4 linked regions of the Homo sapiens genome follow. The protein of the gene in region 2 interacts with the protein of the main gene of each other region in a biochemical or structural test. Each region holds a gene or a part of one and is shown on either strand. Other genes may lie near its edges.

What was found. Proteins that work in one complex are often made in the same cells at the same time.
Region 1: the proteins of LIMK2 (region 2) and SCN4B interact in a test that uses a peptide from one of them, tested with the Homo sapiens proteins (one large-scale study listed by IntAct).
Region 3: the proteins of LIMK2 (region 2) and RNF146 interact in a test that uses a peptide from one of them, tested with the Homo sapiens proteins (one large-scale study listed by IntAct).
Region 4: the proteins of LIMK2 (region 2) and PKP4 interact in a test that uses a peptide from one of them, tested with the Homo sapiens proteins (one large-scale study listed by IntAct).

What each region holds. Positions count from the first base shown.
Region 1 is NC_000011.10:118,132,409-118,136,833, forward strand, and holds the end of SCN4B (sodium channel regulatory subunit beta-4 isoform 1 precursor), read right to left. Parts: 3' UTR 969-4,425; downstream 1-968. UniProt on the Homo sapiens protein: Regulatory subunit of multiple voltage-gated sodium (Nav) channels directly mediating the depolarization of excitable membranes.
Region 2 is NC_000022.11:31,262,956-31,268,721, reverse strand, and holds part of LIMK2 (LIM domain kinase 2), read right to left. Parts: intron 2,777-5,766; coding exon 2,590-2,776; intron 1,739-2,589; coding exon 1,652-1,738; intron 947-1,651; coding exon 815-946; intron 579-814; coding exon 522-578; intron 1-521. UniProt on the Homo sapiens protein: Serine/threonine-protein kinase that plays an essential role in the regulation of actin filament dynamics. Acts downstream of several Rho family GTPase signal transduction pathways.
Region 3 is NC_000006.12:127,282,854-127,286,930, forward strand, and holds part of RNF146 (E3 ubiquitin-protein ligase RNF146), read left to right. Parts: exon of another isoform or gene 1-2,495; intron 2,496-3,196; exon of another isoform or gene 3,197-3,324; intron 3,325-3,762; coding exon 3,763-4,077. UniProt on the Homo sapiens protein: E3 ubiquitin-protein ligase that specifically binds poly-ADP-ribosylated (PARsylated) proteins and mediates their ubiquitination and subsequent degradation. May regulate many important biological processes, such as cell survival and DNA damage response.
Region 4 is NC_000002.12:158,675,942-158,679,908, forward strand, and holds part of PKP4 (plakophilin-4), read left to right. Parts: intron 1-797; coding exon 798-926; intron 927-2,639; coding exon 2,640-2,713; intron 2,714-3,304; exon of another isoform or gene 3,305-3,448; intron 3,449-3,967. UniProt on the Homo sapiens protein: Plays a role as a regulator of Rho activity during cytokinesis. May play a role in junctional plaques.

The sequences.
Region 1 (4,425 bases), on a different chromosome or scaffold from region 2:
GATCCTTACAGGGGTAACTGCAAGTTCAATGCATAGCATCCCAAGTGTTCTAAACCCAGGCTTGCCCCAGGAAACCCCAATATCCAACCGGTGTATTGCAGATGGGAAGGTAGCAGGAGGTCCCAGGCAACAGGAAGTACCTGAAGACAGGAAAGTGGCTGCGTGGGGAACCCGGGTGGTGAATCCATTCAGGGCAGAAGTGCAGCGCACAGTCTCTATAGCTGAGGGCTGGAGGAAGCAGAGCTGGCAGGGACATCTGCCGAAACTGATTCTGCGTACCTGGAGTCCTTGACGGAGAAGAGAGGGTCTTTCAACAAGCTCTTCTGAGTACTGAGGTACTGAGTACCTCACACTGAAATACTGAGTACCTCACACTGAAGTACTGAGTACCTCACACTGAAATGCAGTGTGAGGTGAATCCATTGAAGAGAGGAATACGGTATGGTAAGAAATTGTGGTATGAGAAAGTCCAAGAATATAAGCAAACACCTACACGTTGGTACATATCCCCAGTTCCTTCCCAGGCACTGGCCTTATGCCCAGCACCCGGAAACTCTTTGGAAGGTAGGCGTTCATGTGAAGCGGATTTTACCTGGACCTAACTAACCCGGGGAAGGGAAGGAGAGAGTGAGCCTGGGGGAGGAGCTGTTGTGATATTTGTGGTGCCAGGGTCACGACCAAGGTCATCCATACCAGGAGGGCCCTGGCAATGATTCCAGTATTAAAGAGCCACGTTGCCAACTTCTCCAGAGAAGGTATAGGAATGAAAACGACCCAAACACCTGTGAATGTGCCAGATGTTCTTAGGCAGTTTGCCTGTGTTATTTCACCTAGGCAGGTAACATTTTAGACACAAACAGATTGAGGCTCAGAGAAGGTAAAGAAACTTGTCCTAAGCACAGCTGGCAAGAAATAAAACTGGAACCCAACTCCCAACCAGTCAAAAATGGAAGCCCCCAAATCCCAAATTATTAAACATAATTTTTATTTCATCCAAGGCAAAGCTAAATACAATTCTACAATGCAAAACTTGTTGTAGAGGCCAGACTGATTATATCCGTTCTGTGCTCGAACACAAGTCAGTGCTGGCTGTGTGGGCATCTGCGCCTCCCAGAGGCACTCGCACACCTGAGGCCTCCCAAGGCCTGTTGTTGCATCATTTGATCTATAGTTACATAGGAAAATTGACTATGGGTATTGTTGTCATCCAAGCCAGAGGAATAAACCATGCATAAGATAGTCAAAAGCACTGCATATCAGGTGGGAGGTGGGAGGGTAGGGACTCCAACCTGGGACAAAGTAAAGTAAAGCAAGTTATAGGATTTTCCCGAGAAGTCCCCGCTCCTGGAACTCCCTACTGCCAGCCCTCTGATGGCAGCTGTCTGTGACACTGAGATGAAGTCATGGAGTGACGGAATGCAGGAGCACGGCTGGTCTTCTCTGCCTTTGATTCTTTCTCAGTCTCCAGATGCCTCAACAGGCATAGCTCAGGCCAAGAAAGACGGCTCCTCAAATGTCCAGCATCTGCCCATCATGCATCACCCCTTACATGCAGAGCCCATCCACTCCACAGTTACGCTGCCATGCACCCACACTGCCTGCACACGCACACTCCACACAAGCACACCCCACCTCCTGCCATCTCACAAGCATGCTCTCAAGCCCTCGCTCCACAAGAGCTCTGATCGGCCTGCCATATGTAGTCTGAGCCCCATCGGCTGCTCTCCCCAGGCCTCTCTAACATCAGGGGTTTATTCGGGCTGCCTTCTGTTCAATTACGACATGGGGAGAAGCCCAGAACCTGGAATGCTGATTTCATATTTTGTAGTTGATGAGGAGCTCAGAACTTTGTCTTTAGTCTCGCTGACATCACTCAGCCCAGCTGCATGTGGCCAGGTCTCTCAAGATCGACTTTGTAAGTGGCTCTCTCTAGCCCACAAGCCCTGGAAGCCACCATCAGAGATTTGCATGCACTGAGGTTCCACTTGGGGAAGATAGCTTTGCCCATATACATCCTAGTGCAAATCCATGCCAGTGTTTCTCCATGGGTATAATGTTGACATGGGACAGGATGATTCTTTGTTGTGGGGACTAAGTTTAGCATTCTTAGTAGTGCCCCCACGCATGGGGGCAACCAAAAATGCCCCCCCTACAATCTCAGTCACCTCTATTGAAAACCATCAAACAAAAGCCATGGACAAGAAGCTTTAAGCATCAGAGTCAAGGTTTCTAATATTGCAAAGACTAAATAATTCCAAGGGGGGTGGGATGGAAAGAAAGAGAGAGAGAGTGTGTGTGTCTGTATGTGGGTTGTAGAGATGGGACACAGAGATGAAGACAGGACAGACTTGGAACTATCCCTGCAATTAATACCTGGCTTCCCAGATCCCTTTCCAAGCCAAAAAGATGTTTTTAGACAAAACTTGCCAAGCCTCACAACAGTCCTGTGAGGTAGGTAAGTATTATTACACCCATTTGGTAGATGGAAAGAGCTGAGCTGAGAGAAGCTGCATGATCCATCTAGAAATCAGCAGTAGACCCTGGGGAGGAAAGAGAGGATGGTGCCCTTCTTCTCCCTACTCTACGTGCCTTGGCTTTCTCTTAAGACAGAAGGAGGAGCCCCAAGGTGCTCTGCCTCTTCAAATGTCACCATTGAGAAGGAAGAAGAAAACAGTTTTGCATGAAGGTAGCTATAAGAAGTTTTCTGAATGGCTGGTGGCTCTGGTCTGTCTGCTCCCAAAGCCAGGAAAATCTGAGCCCCAGCCCATGACAGGTTCTGGGTAGAGAAGAATGGGAGGCGCACAGGCAGATCAGACGGGGAACTGGTGAGCCCAGCAGGTTGGCTAAGGGACACTGGCCACAGCCACGGGCACCCTGCAGGTACTACTGGTCCTCAGTCTCCCCCCACTCCACCCTTGCGAGGCTTGCAGCTGCTTTTTGACAGGGAGAGCTCTGAGGTAGACCCCAAACTCTCTGAAAAAGGGGGCTACTCCTCTCTCATCCCTCCTAGGGGCCCAGAAGACAGGGCATCAAAAAATCAGTAAGGGAGAGAGGGATTGGAAGTAGATGGGCAGAGAGGCTTGTTACCACTTTTCCCTGCCATCCCTGGCCTCACCAATTCTGCCCAACAAGGACTCAGGAGATCCCACTCCCAACATCACCACCTCCCCCTAGGGCAGGCTAGAAACCCCAATGGGAGCACCTGGCCGACATCTCCAAGATTCAGTCACTGGCCAATTCCAGCCTCATGGCCCCCTCTATGACCCTGGGGAGGGGAGGGCTGGCGAACCCTCACCAGCACCACACCAGACTCTGCTGTTATGTCAGGACATACCGTCTAGAGAGGATGGGGGTAAGGGCTAGGATTCAGGACTAAGGCACATTCTAGCCCCACACACAAGGGCTGTGCAAACCAGCTCTGGGAGAAGCAAAGGAAAACTGTGGGCACCCACTCCCTGCTCCTCCCCAACCCCAGGGTGGGAGGGGGTGGCCCAGCTGAGCAGGAAGCAGCTGGGAAACCCAAGGACCCCCTCATCCAAAGGAAGAGAGTCCCTGAGGCGAAGGCAGGCCCTTGACCCAGGGCTGGGAAATGAACCACCCTGGGGGCAGGGCGTGATGGAGGGCACGGTGGGGGGGGGGGAGCGAGCCAATGGGAGGTTGGAGGGTGCAGCCTCTCAGGTAGGAGGGGGAGAAGCAGGGGAGAGCTGGGCTCAGGAGTGCCCAGAGTGGCGATGGTCCTGCCATGCCAGGGGAGGGGCTGCCAGCATTGGCAGCAATGGGGCGGGCATCCCAGAGGCCCAGGACACTGGCTCACTACCTCTGTGGCCCAATTCCCCAAGTAGAAATGCTTGGAAAGGCATAGGGAGCACTCGGGTACTCCAGGAAGGCTCGAGGGGCCCCTTCCTGAGCCCCTCAGTAACCCAGAGAGCAGAGGAGCAGGCTAGGTGGCCAGGAACCCTCAAGACCAGGGTGGCCAGCCCTGGTTGAGAGGGCTTAAAAACTCTGAGCAGGGGAGGGGATAGGCAGATAGGGTCCCGGGGCAGGGGAAAGGAAGTTTCCTACTTGGAAGACTGTGGGGGATCTGGTATCCTATGAAGCAGAGGCAGTCTCTCACTGTGGGCCTGCCCCCATCAGCCCCCACCCCAGGTCTTCTCCAGAGGCCTCCAGCCCACTCCCACCTCCAAAGGAAGCCACTTCTTCCTACACCCCATCTCCAGGGTGCAGCTCTTAGGACATCCCTTACGGATCCTCCCAGTCTCTTGTGAAGAGAAGCCTGGAGGAAAATCAAGGCCCTGCTTGTGCAGGGTAGGGAGACTGAAGGAGACCCCATCTGCCCAGGTGTCAGGGGACCAGCCCCTCCACACCACCCTAGCCTCTCCTTTCTTTCTCCTGAATCTTCCACAGACCCCCTCCCCTGGCCATCCC
Region 2 (5,766 bases):
GTCAGCTGTTATTATTTCTATGCTTGGAATCATTTGTTTCCAGGTGAAATAGATGATTTTCTCCTCTTTCCTCCCAGGTCTTTGCTCCTGTCACTTCAATCCTGGTGCCTCTCTGCCAATAAGAACTTTATCCAATTCTGATCCTTCAGGGCTCCGCTAGAACTCATTTCCCCTTCATTGATTTCCTAGGCAGTGAGGTGCTCTAGTTGGTCTAAGGGCCCTCAGCACCTGAATACCTGTGATGGCAAGCCCAGGCCATCTCAGGCTACAGTTTGCCTCTCCAGTTTGCCTTGTCCGTGCCCTGTTTGCCTTTAGAGATGTGTAATTCTTTGAAAACAGGGCTGTGAACTGAGAACAGTTGGCTGGGGTCAGTTTCAGTGACACAGACAAACTCAATGAATAGCTGCTGACCCAGCCCACACAAGTTGCATAGGAAGGGGTCTCTACCTTCCAGTGAAGCCCACAATTCTCACACCTCTCCCTACTCTCGCCCTGCTGGCAGGTTTGTTGGTGGGACTCACCATTCCGGAGGCGATTCCTTTGGCAAACCTGACCTTCTGCTGCCAGGGGAACGGATCCTGCAGAATGGGGAATGATTTTCAGAGGCTGTTGAGCCCTGTCCCACTCGTGGTCCAGGCCCCATGGGTCAATGTGGTCTCCCAGTGAAGCCTCCCTGTGTATGCTCAGTCCCACCCAGCATGGTCCTTTGGAGGCAAAGCAGGGCCCCTCTGCCCTTTAAGCTCCTAGGGTAGTGATAGCATAGGTGTCTGACAACCCACCAAGGCTCCTGGAGACTATGGGGTGGTGTGCTCACCATACTGCGCAGAAAGTCCTTCAGTGTGCCCCCCTCAATGTACTCTGTCAGGAGGTTCAGCTTCTTATCCTTGTACAGCACACCAATGAACTTGAGCACATTGGGGTGGTCCAGGCTGCGCATCACTTTCACCTGGGGGTGGGGGAAGCCAAGGAAAGCTGGTGGTTAACTTCTCACTGTCTTCCTTACCTCTTCCCTCCAAGGAATCAGCTTGACAAGTGTTACCACCTGTATCTCCTACCTCCTATCTTGTGATATGACAGGGCACTAAGATCAGGATGAGGGAAGACCACCACCATATAGATGGAGATGGCTTCATAGGCCTTACCCTTGGAACTGCATTGGGAGAACTGGGGTGGGAGTGGCCAAGTGGCTTGGAGGGCAATACCCAGACCACAGGTGTCCCCAACTTAAGTTACTCCATGAAGTAACTTGGGAGGGGTAGTGAAAACTGTAAATGCCCAAGGAGTGTGAGTGCTCAGGGAGCTCCCCTCCAGGCTCCCTTAGCAGGGCGTTCAGGTGAGGATTATAACATTGAGTTGTACTAAATTGGAGTGTTTTCATGTCCATCATCCTCATAACCTGAGAGCTCTTCTGAACCCTGTATCTTTTGTTACTGCATCCCTTGTACCCTGTTTGTGTTGCTTTTAGTAAGTGTTCATTGAACAAATAATTACGCTGTAATTTAGAGGGAGTGGGATATTCCTCTAGGGCTCTTTTCTGCTTAGTCTTTAAGACAGTAATTCCAAACTGTATTTTCTCTTGAAGCCATTATTTGTAAGGTCTTCTCTCTTCCAATGGTGACACCAACCTCCCGGGCCCCCTCCATCTTCTTACCTCAGTCAGAAAAGTTTTCTGGGTCTCCTCATCACATCGAATTAACTCTTTCATGACCATCACTTTGCCCGTGGCTTTGTGTGTCACCTACAGGGAGGGTGACTGTTAATGGTGCTGAGACCAGAGGAAGTTCTGGAGAACTGTTTGAGAAAATCTATGCAGCTGGCCATCCCATCCCTTGGAGGGCACACTGAGCCGGGTCAGAATGACAGAGTTCATGTGTGGAAGATGCAGCGTGGAGCAACATGGGACTCACACGGAAGCAAACCCTCTTTCCTGGAGAGCTGGGCATGCACAGAGGACAGGCAAGAACCCAGAAAAGGGAAGTGGGGAAGAAGGCAGGAGGGGATGCTGCCAAGCCAAGCAGGGGCTCTGGTCATTTGGCATAGAAGTGAGTCTCCTGAGTGAACAGAAGTCTGGGGGCAGGAAGGTCAGTGCCAAAGACATGCACCAGGGAGCTGGGTGGATCGGGGGTGAGCTCTCCAGCCCTGCTGCCCCCAAGCTGAGACACACGTCTTACCTGACCCCCCCTCCCAGTTCTCAGCAGAAGAGGAGGAGGAGGAGAGAAAGAGAGAGGTTAGTCCCTGAGACTGTTCACCAGGGAGGCAGGAGCCATTCCCCTGTGTGCTCCTTGTAGCATGCCCGGTACTGAGGTCTGCAGGCACCTAACAAACACCCACTGACTGGAGGCAGGAGGGCCACAGGCACAGCTCAACCCAACCTGGATCTCCAGGTCCACAAGCTCACTGTAACAGCAACATTGACCTTAGGTGGCCTGGGTGGGGGTGAAGGATACCTCTCACACCAACACCCAAAGCCAGGAAGGAGGCCTGGCATCCTGCATGGTGTGGGGTGGGGCCAAGTGATGAGAAATCCCCGAAAGACAGTGACAGAGGGACTGGGGGCAGAAGAGCAAAGCAATTGTTGCCTGCGCTCACCTTGATAGCCTGCCCAAAGAAGCCCTTCCCCAGGACCTCCCCATGGATTAGGTCACAGGGCCGGAAGATCTGCTGTGAATAGCTGCTGGAACAACGAAGGGATTCTGAGCGGCTGATGTCACGGCTGAACAGCAGGGGCTCCTTTGGGGAGCTGGGGCCAGGGGACTTGGAGATACTGTTACTGCGCCTGAAGATGAGGAAAGACGGGAGTAGGGATGTGTAGTCCTCAGAGACCGGCCAAGAAACCCTGGAGGGAGGAAACTTAGGGGCACCTGTTCATTCCAATGTCTATAGTTTAGATGTTATTATTGGGGAACAGGGGCTCTTACATCAGATGTATCATTTTGGGGTTGCTGACATCAGTCATTTATTTAAGCATAGTAAAAACACATTCAAAATGGGAACTCTGCATACATCACACATAGAACAATTAACTAGATTCTACTAGCTGATAATGCTCAGTATGTGACATATATGACAACACTGTAGATGGTAATTCACCATCTCCCATATCTGCTTGATTTAAGTACTAACTGGTTTAGAGTGATAGTTATACTAGTATCCAAAAAATGAGCAAATGGGATTTTTTTTTTTTGAGACAGAGTCTCGCTCTGTCAACCAGGCTGGAGTGCAGTGGTGTGATCTTGGCTCACTGCAACCTCTGTCTCCCTAGTTCACCTGAGTCTCATGCCTCCGCCTCCTGAGTAACTGGGACTACAGGCATGTGCCACCAGGCCCGGCTAGTTATTGTTATTATTATTATTTTTGAGACAGAGTCTCGCTCTGTCGCCCAGGCTGAAGTGCAATGGCACGATCTCGGCTCACTGCGACCTCCGCCTTCCAGGTTCAAGCGATTCTCCTGCCTCAGCCTCCCAAGTAGCTGGGAGTATAGGTGCACGCCACCACGCCCGGCTAATTTTTTTTTTTTTTTTTTTTTTTTTGATGGAGTCTCACTCTGTCGCCCAGGCTGGAGTGCAACGGCGGGATCTCCACTCACTGCAACCTCTGCCTCCCAGGTTCAAGAGATTCTCCTGCCTCAGCCTCCCAAGTAGCTGGGATTACAGGCGTGTGCCACCACAACCGAATAATTTTTGTATTTTTTTAGTAGAGATGGGGTTTCACCATGTTGGCTAGGTTGGTCTCGAACTCCTGATCTCGCGATCCATCTGTCTCGGCCTCCCTAAGTGCTGGGATTACAGGCGTGAGCCACCACACCCGGCCCTAATTTTTGTATTTTTAGTAGAGATGGGGTTTCACCATATTGGCCAGGCTAGTCTCAAACTCCTGACCTTGTGATTCGCCCACCTCGGCCTCCCAAAGTGCTGGGATTATAGGCGTGAGCCACTGCGCCCAGCCTAATTATTGTATTTTTAGTAGAGATAGGGTTTCACCATGTTGGCCAGGCTGGTCTCAAACTCCTGACCTCAAGTGATTTGCCCGCCTCGGCCTCCCAATGTGCTGGGATTACAGGCGTGAGCCACCGTGCCTGGCCAGCAAATGGGATTTTGGATGATATTTTGCACATCTTTGTACCTGTCCATGTTTCCTGAATTTTAAGATGATAAACACGTATGATTTTTACAGCAATAAAGTCACTATGTTTACATTTTCAAAAGCGGTCGATAATAGTCATGGTCAATGACTGTTATTTTCACTTACTGAAGAAGGAACAAGAAGGTTGAAGTCCACAGCACTGCAGGTGAACAGCCCTGCGAACTTTCTCTCTGGGGTATGCTCCTGCTTTACTTGGGCTACCCAGAGAGGACTGACGCTGGATGGCTCTTGGCTTGTCCCGACCTACAGGTTTACTTACCCTTGTCCTTTTGCTCTGCCTCCTGCTGACCATGCCCACCAGAGCACACAAGGCTAGCTGCCCCCCTCCTCTGCATGGTGGCTCTACAGATACCTGGCCACTCCCAAATCTTCCCTTTTCCAGGCCATGGATTTCTAGCTCTTCCCTGCCCTCTGTTGCCCTGCCTCCCACTAATTTCATCATACTGACCAAGGCCAAGAGGCAATGGGAGTGAGGGCAGCACTTTAATGAGAGGGCACTGTTTCCAACACATGCCAGCTGAGAGGGCTCTAACTTACTCAGTTTGTTTGGTGAGGAGAGTGGATAAAAAAAAACAAACTTTTTTTTTTGGAGACAAGGTCTCACTCTGTTGCCCAAGCTGTAGTACAGTGGTGTGATCAAGGCTCACTGCAGTCTTGAACTCCTGGGCTCAGGCAATCCTCCTCCTCAGCCTCTTGAGTAGCTGGGATTACAGGCATGTGCCACCATGCCCAGTTAAGTTTTTTATTCTTTGTAGAGACAGGAATGTGGCCCAGGCTGCTCCTGAACTCCTGGCCTCAAGCAATCCTCCGGCCTTGGCCTCCCAAAGTGCTGGGATTACAGGTGTGAGCCACAGTGCCCTGCCCATCTAATTAAAAACAATTATTATTATTATTTTTTTTTTGTAGAGACAGTGTCTCACTATGTTGCTCAGGCTGGTCTCAAACTCCTGTGTTCAAGCCATCCTCCGACCTAGGCCTCCCAGAGTGTTGGGATTACAGGCATGAGCCACGGTGCCTGGCCAAGAACCTGATTCTTAGTGATACTAAGAATGTGTCACGTTTACTGAACACTGTCCCTATGGCAGCACTATACAACTTTATGTCCTTTTCCACATTTAATCCTTACATAATTGGTGAGACAGCCACCTTTATCTTACCATCTTATGTCACAGATGCAGAAACAGGCTCAGAGAGATGAAGTGATTTGTGAAGGGAGGAGCTCAGCCTGAAGCCCCAGTAGGGTATCAGTATTTCTGCCTGGGAGCCAGTGCTCTTGACTTCTTTTCTGTAAGTCTCCCTACTTGGGGCTTCCACTCAAGGCAACTTCTCCTTCCCCATGGACCTGGCAGAATCTGGGGTTTGGGGGTTGTTGGTCCCTCAAGTCTAAAAAAAACGTTCATTCATCTTTTGCTTTATTGTTTTCAAAGTCTTTCTACACAATTTATTCAATCCTATCTGTGCCCCTACTCCAGGCTCTGAGCTCCATGCTTTCTCCATAGGCCATGTTGCCCTTCAGGGTTTAGCATCACTGCCTCCTGTCCAGCTTAGGAGTTCAGTGGACAGAGACTGACTCTCAGGTTTCTAAGGAAACCTGGCAGACAGCTGGGTCCGCACAGGCTCTGG
Region 3 (4,077 bases), on a different chromosome or scaffold from region 2:
CTTGAAATTATATGTAGGATTGTTCCCTTTTTGTGTGTCTGTAATTGGATTCTAAATTCAGACTTTAAAAATCTGATTTTTAATATTTGGAGTTTTTATTGCAAGCTAAAAATTTCTTGAATACTACACATACTAAAGATCTTTTTTGCTTATAATAATTTTGCCTTTCATTTGACTAGTTGTCCAAGAAGTTTCAAGGAAATCTGAGTTCTTGGAGATTTCCACTAACTCTGCCCATACCCCTCTATATTTTGTCTTCTTGAGAAGAAGACTTAGTATTAATAGACTCTTATTAGTCTGGCAGAAATATTTCACATGGTTTATCTATTGGAAGAAGGGGATTTATACTTAAAAGTTGGAATATCACATGAAGAATTCAGTAAAAACGTCTTTGAAAGTAAATGATGTATTATACTTATTAATAGAATTGGACTAACGTCACTCCAAATTTCTGTGTATTAAATTCTTAGTTTAGTAAACTGGAAATAAATTCCCTTTTTCAAAATTAGAATTTTCTGAGACATTTATGAGATAGGGAATACCTCTTTTGATTAGCATTAATACTTGCTCTACACAAAGGGAGGGGAAAAGCTTTCTTATTTACATATTGGTATGATCATCTGCATACATTTAGTCTCCCACCTATTTTAAGATCATTGGAACTGCAAAACAGAGACTGTGTAGGGTAGATTAAAATGGTTTTTTAAAAAGCCTTGAAGTATGTCTTATAGGTAGACTAGCAGTTTGGGGTTACTTTGTGTCTATCTTGTTACACATTTTATCTCTATCTTACTTATTGCATGTGCCTCATTCAGAATTAAATAAGAAATATCACTAAGTTTTTCTGCCCATTTGTTAGTTGGTGATAGACTAACAGTATACTTGATGGGCTAAACAGAATCAGAATTTATAAATTGCTATGGCAAATTGATAGTTAAGAGTGCTTCAGATGAAATAATGACCATTTAGCTGTCTGGTGTCCATTGTTTGCAGATTAACTTTGTCCAACTTCACTTCATTCTGATGATGGAACCAAAATACCTGCACAAACAGGATTGTTTTGCCTTTCCAATTATGTTATTATAATTCATGCCTTCTCCTGGGATGATTGTAATTGCTTTCTTAGTTTTGAAATTATGTGTTTTGGTTTATTCATAAATGCAAGAGTAAGAGTCATGCAAAATATTAATCATATTAAGTAGGGTGGAGGATAATGTTTTTAGGTTGGAAACTTTTTTTTCTGTAGATAAACGAGCTGTATGTGATGGAAAACTGACTTCTTGGGCCCATTTTACTTAAAGCAAATACAATAGGTTTGGAATTATGTATTTAAAAGCATGGCATTGGTCCACGTGACATGTTGGGTGTCTTGTTTTCATTTTACCAGACTCTGTTTTTATTTATGTTTTCAGTTTATGATCCTGTCCTTTGTTCATAAGGTACTTAGATGGTTTAAGATGTAGACTTCTTATATGAAGATGTTGCTGTTGTTTTTCCAAAGTAATGGTGGTCATCAGCCCATTTTTCTATTTAGTCTCATGAATAGAATCATGAGTAGAATCTTTCTTAAATTATTACTTGTAAATGGATCACTTTCTTGTTTTCTTTTTCTTAATTGGAGCTTTAAATAAATATGGAACTTGGAACAAAAAGATTTTCAGGAATTTTATGGAAACTAACTTTTTTGACCTAAATCGAAAGGGATGAAAGTTTCTGAAAACCTAACAAAATGTGTGCACAGCCAATTCTTTTAGGGGAGGAAATAGGCAGGGAATGTGTAATTGGCTATTTTAAAAACATATGCCTTCTTTTGTAACTTATTGTTGTTTCAAGTTACAAGATCTTTGAAGGCAAGTGTTTATCTCAAAATATTTGAAAGCTTTTATAGTGCTTAACATACTAAGACGTCCTATTAGGGTTTACTTAGAACAAGCTTATCCAACTTGTGGGCCACATGTGGCCCAGGATGGCTTTGAAAGCGGCCTAACACAAATTCATAAGCTTTCTTAAAACATTATGTGATTTTTTTTTTTAGCTTATCAGCTATCATTAGTGTTAATGCATTTTATGTGTGGCCCAAGACAATTCTTTTTCTTCCAGTGTGGCCCAGGGAAACCAAAAGATTAGACACCCCTGACTTAGAACTTTCCATAGGTTAGGAGAAAGTTGTACTTTCTTGATGTCTATAACCTAGAATTTCTGGTAAAGGAATTGATTGGAAATGTTATTAAAAGTTGAAAATAATTTGGAAATTAAACATTTTAGTGATCAGTTCTTCCATTGAGACTGTGTTGGTTCCTTTACTAGATATGTGCCATCTTTTTAAAAACTTACTGTGTTGCTTCCTTTACTAGAAAATTGCCATCTTTTTGAGCCTTGTCTATTGAGGAACCAAGAACACAGAAAAGGCAGTAAAAAGAAAAAAAAGGATTGTTTGAAGATTGAATGTGCTGTGATGATAGCCTAGGATTATTGTTTTTCAATTTTTGATGAGCGTAAGCATTCTTGTTGACTATATCTTTTGTAACTACTGACCCATTTAGAATGGCAGAATTAGCTGGCAGAGAGATTGTCATTCATTTTAAGCTTTCAATCTCTGACATCTTCATCTTTATTTCTCAGTCTTTTTTACTTATCAGTGGTTTACTCCATTATTTTCTCCCCTTTTAAAATGTCTTTTTTTTTTTTTTTTTACCATGGGGAAAAAAATTAGATGTTTCCTTGGCAGGGCACAATAACACAATAAGGCTTTCATGACTTAACTTTTGATTACCTTTACACCTTCATCTCCTGCTCTTCCATTGCTTGTATGACTATTTGACTCAGTGTCTTGCATGTGCTTCTGCCTGGAATCTGCTCCACTGCCCAGCCCCTCTGAATGAACACTAAACTTTCTAACCTATGTCCATCCTCTCATCTCTCTCTTACTGTTATTTTAGTAAGTATGTTAACACATTTTGATTACGCAGGAATCAGGCCATATTGTAATTATCTGCATGTATGTTTCCTTATTTAACAGAGTAGTTGTGTGTCTTATTTATCTTTAGACCCATCAGTACTTAGTATTGTATCTGGAACATGGCAGGTGTTTAGTAAATGTTTATCTGAATCAATAAGGCAGAAATTATAAATTTTATGTCAGTGTTTAAGCTAGATACATCCAATTTGACAAATCTTTTTTCTTCTTCCTCTTCAGGGGATCTTCAATATTCATGTTATTTTCTCCTTTGGTCTTATATGATTGTTACCTTTATGAAGCTTTAGTGATTACAAAGCACTTTTTTTGTCCATTTTTACCTGAGCTTTGTAAACTCTGATTTGCAGGTAAGGAAATTTAGACTAATGGTTTAACTGAGTGCCTAAGAGCACATAATTAATAAAGGACTCTAAAACTCAGATTTTTAGATTTCTTGTCTAGCATTCATTTCACTGTATAATAGCTGCCATGATTCAAGGTATCCTTTTCCCCTCACTGGATGCAGCTTTTCATTATATAGTTCTTCAGTGTGTTTCTCCAGGGCTGATCTGTTAAGTGCACTGATGGAATTTTTATACATTCCCAAGGTATGTACAAGTAGATGCTTACAAAAAATTTTCATCGGTTGGAGAGTTTTTCCTCTACTTTCATCTTCATATCCCCATTGTCTAGTATGTGGCTTGCATATAATGCACATCATAGGTGGTTAGTGTTTTCATAATTGTTAAATTAAGATATTGCAAGAATTAAAACATGACTTTAATATTATATGTATTTTTTCTTAGGATGGCTGGCTGTGGTGAAATTGATCATTCAATAAACATGCTTCCTACAAACAGGAAAGCGAACGAGTCCTGTTCTAATACTGCACCTTCTTTAACCGTCCCTGAATGTGCCATTTGTCTGCAAACATGTGTTCATCCAGTCAGTCTGCCCTGTAAGCACGTTTTCTGCTATCTATGTGTAAAAGGAGCTTCATGGCTTGGAAAGCGGTGTGCTCTTTGTCGACAAGAAATTCCCGAGGATTTCCTTGACAAGCCAACCTTGTTGTCACCAGAAGAACTCAAGGCAGCAAGTAGAGGAAATGGTGAATATGCATG
Region 4 (3,967 bases), on a different chromosome or scaffold from region 2:
AGCAAGATGATTTTTTTAATAAGAAAAAGAAAAAATGTGAAATATTTCTCTCTTCTTTCTGTGCCACAGTGTCCAAAAAGAGTCCTAAGGATAGATACGGTGTTACTAGATGTTGGCTGAAGCTGGGGTAAAACAGTCCTCAGTCCTCTGGGCCTTTCTGAGGTCAGGGCTTAGCACCATGTGCGCTTCCTAATGAGCCAGGCTTACTGGGTTTAAATTGTTTCCTTGATCACCATAAAAAGAATTATAAATTTTATAGAATGGGTGCTTTTATTCAAACATGTTTAGAGATGTGGATATTTTGGAAATAATTAGAAATCAAAACATGCCATAAAACTTCTGTTGGCTGAAGAGCTATACATAAAGGATAATAGGTGGGTATTTTGCAAGCAACTGAACTGGGATCATAAAATAACAAGTATAACTCTTGCATGGCTAGTAAGTTATTATCACTCAGTTTCAAACGCCTAGTCAAGACATTGAGACAGACTAGTGGGGAAAGCTGCATGATCTCTACACTGTGCCTCTTTAGCCGGGCAGCTTGCCCTCCAGCTTGAGAGTGAGCCCCGGTGTTGACTTTGCTGATTTGTGCAGTGGCAGGCCTGCATGCAGGTAGCACTTGCAGTACTTGGGTCTAGCTGCTCTTCCACTCCCAGCACCTCTGAGATATTTTCAGCACCAGCTGTGTGTCATTTCTAGTTACTGAGCTTTGTGTTTCTGGAGAGGATTTTCCACAGATACTGATGCTGATTTCTCTTTCTACCCCTCTTTCTCTCCTCCTTTGCCTCTCCCTTCAGTCGGCAGCACCTCTTCCTCACCAGCACTGTTAGGAATCAGAGACCCTCGCTCTGAATACGATAGGACCCAGCCACCTATGCAGTATTACAATAGCCAAGGGGATGCCACACATAAAGGCCTGTACCCTGGTAAGACGCCAGTTGGGTGTGTGATACAGTCTCTTGAAAAGCCGCATTTCCAGGCGCTTGGCCAGTGGCCTGGGAAGTAGCCTGTGCTTGTATTGAGACAGTCCCCCAGCAGCAAACCATGTTCCAGTCATTCCCTTTCCTACTTTGGGGATTGTTGCCTTTTCTGCTTGTTTAAAGTAAAACAAGCATGTACTTGTTTGTATGTATGTATGTATGTAGTTGTACGGTGGGCACAAATAAAAAGAGGGCTGTATCCAAATAAATCATTTCTGGCTGCTCACTGGCACAGTCCCTTTGCTCCGTCCCCTCCTGGCTCGAGCAGTCTCTGTGTTTTCCACATGCATCAGAACCGTCAGCCCAGTGTCACTTTGCAGGGGCCACATCTTCTAGACTGGCTCATCTCTTAAATTCAAACCAGAGAATGGAGATCAATTTCATTTACATTTTCATGGAGAAGAGTTTGAATAAATAGCAAAAGGTATAATGTGATTCTTCTCAACGTGATTATTTTTTAAGAATAACAAAAATAATGTTACATAGTGTTAATATTTTTATATCCTATTCAGAAAGCTGTGCATACAATTTATTTAAAGGATACCAGCCCAAAGGGTTACTAAGATTTCATACTGTTCCCATTCTCAACCGTCTGGCGATTATAACTACTTTAGATGTTCCAAATAAGTCAGTGTGAGCTACCCCACAAAAAGTACTCTTTTCTCAAACCTGTCTATTAAAAATAAATAAAAGCTGGTGGCAGCTTTACTCCTGCTGGGGGGGCAGTCTCCATTGTACTGTTGTCTTTGAAATTGTGATTTCACAGGACTATTTACTAATCGACTGTTGTTACTATGGCAATTAATAGCTCAGAAAATTGCAGATGCTACATTTCAACACCAAGCTCTGGGCAAAAGGAAATGCACATACCAACTGAAGTGCATGGTTGCTTCCGATTTGCAGCAGCCTGCTTTATCTTACAGATCACCTCTTTAGCATGCATGCCCTTCTGTATCTTCTTCGCTTGCTTCAATAAACTAATTTGCCTCAACTACGTTTCATTTTCCTCATTAAAAAAATAAAAATCTTTGCTAGCCTTAATAATAATGGAAGGGTAACATCATCAGGAGTCTACTATGGACTTTTGAAGACAATTATCTCATTATTACCAAGTTCCTTTTGTATTAAAACATACTTAAATATGCCAGGTACAAGACTGTGCCTCCATTGTTGCTCCTTCCTTGACCTGAGATTTTGAATCCCAGTTGTTTGTTTGGAAGGCATGGGGCTTGTTCGAATATTGTGTTTCGCTTCTCCTCTCTGACCCACTGCCGTAGCTCAGAGCCCTGGAAAAGGAGTGTTCCTCAGCTCAGGATCCCGTGCTGCTGTCCAAAGCCAGCTGGAGAAACCCTCCCACATGTGAGCAGAGCTTGAGCAGGAACCTTTGCGCATGGGCTCTGCACTGGCATTGCTTTTTGGGGAAACACACACAGCCTGTTTCTGCCATAGTTTTGCCATTAGCCCCCACCAGCCCTGAGGTAAGCAGCAGCCAGGCCAGATCCAGGGACCCTGAGCTGCTACCTCTCCCAGCCCGCATTGGCACTGGGGAAGACAGGCCCTGTCGGGGACAGTGCTAGCCCTAGTGCAGGGGAGACCACCCAGCCTAATGGACCAGAGTAATAAGCACTAGTTTTAATTTCATAAAATATTTTCTTACAGGCTCCAGCAAACCTTCACCAATTTACATCAGTTCCTATTCCTCACCAGCAAGAGAACAAAATAGACGGCTACAGGTGAATTTGCAATATCATTTTTACAGAAGGCTGATTAGCAGTTAACACAGTAAGGGGTCCACGTCGATTGACTTCCCAGAGCTGGGCCAACATGGCAGGGTCCTAGATGCTTTCCCTGGGGATCTTCACTCCTTGGAAACTCAACGTGTGGTTTAAGCAAAGCATTTCCACGGTAGCCTCACGTTCTTGAGTATCCACATCGGTACTGCTGAGACCACCGTGCCACTGATGGGGACAGCCGAGAAGTCTTTAGTTCATGTCTTTTGCCCAGCAGTGTCCTCTTCCCACTCTTTTTCTGTTAAGCTCTAAAATCTCTTCCAGCCTCTGAGTGAGGGAAGGTTGGTAAGCACACTTCATGCCCTCATCACATTGTTCTCTTTTGTGTATACCTCGTTCTCCATCTCGCCCCTCCCTGTCCAAGCTCCACAATTTAAAAACACTGAGTCCATCACCAGGTCTGTTTGTCTCAGTGGTCAAGGTGGACTCAGCCCCTGCCGGGATGGACCTCACTGTGGGAGAGTGGGACTGGCGGTTATAACACACCCAGGCTTTGCTTTCATGAAGGGCCTGCAGTCAGTCTCAGGTCCTTACCAGTGCCATGGCGAACTTGGACCATCTGGTCTCTCCTCTTCCCTTTCAATGACACAGAGCAGCTGGAGTTTCCTAAAACAAGACTGTATCCTGTCCTTCAGATAAGGATGTGTTCTAAGACCTCTCCTTCTCGTCATCTTTTCTCTGTAGGTGGAAGAAAAAGAACTTTCCAAGTTATTCATAATTTATGCTATGGTTTTTTAGTCAGGAAAAATAGACCAGAATCATAACTCTGGCTTGAAAGGAGAATTTAGCTCTGAAATCCTTATAATGTTAGAATGCATTGAGTTCCAGGACATGACATTGGTTTCTATGTGGTAAATTTGTTACATCTTACTAAGTAGGGGGATTTGGGCATAATCAAGAACATAGACATAATAACCATCACAATTTGAAGAAATTAGTGTGAGGTCAAAGCTAAGACTGAACAAAAGGAAATGGAGAGCAGTGTGCCCTGTGTGGGTGCCCACGTGTGCCTGGTCTTGCCCACTTACAGATGGACTTAGCCCTGGCTTGGGGAAGCCTTTTCCTCTAGAACCATATTTGCTCACGTGTGTCTCCTAATTTTACTATTCTTCTGCCTTGAGATTGCTTATTCCTTTAATATTACAACTTACAGCAGAGTTTCCAAAGTGTGACTGTTGTTCACCTAGCCACATACAT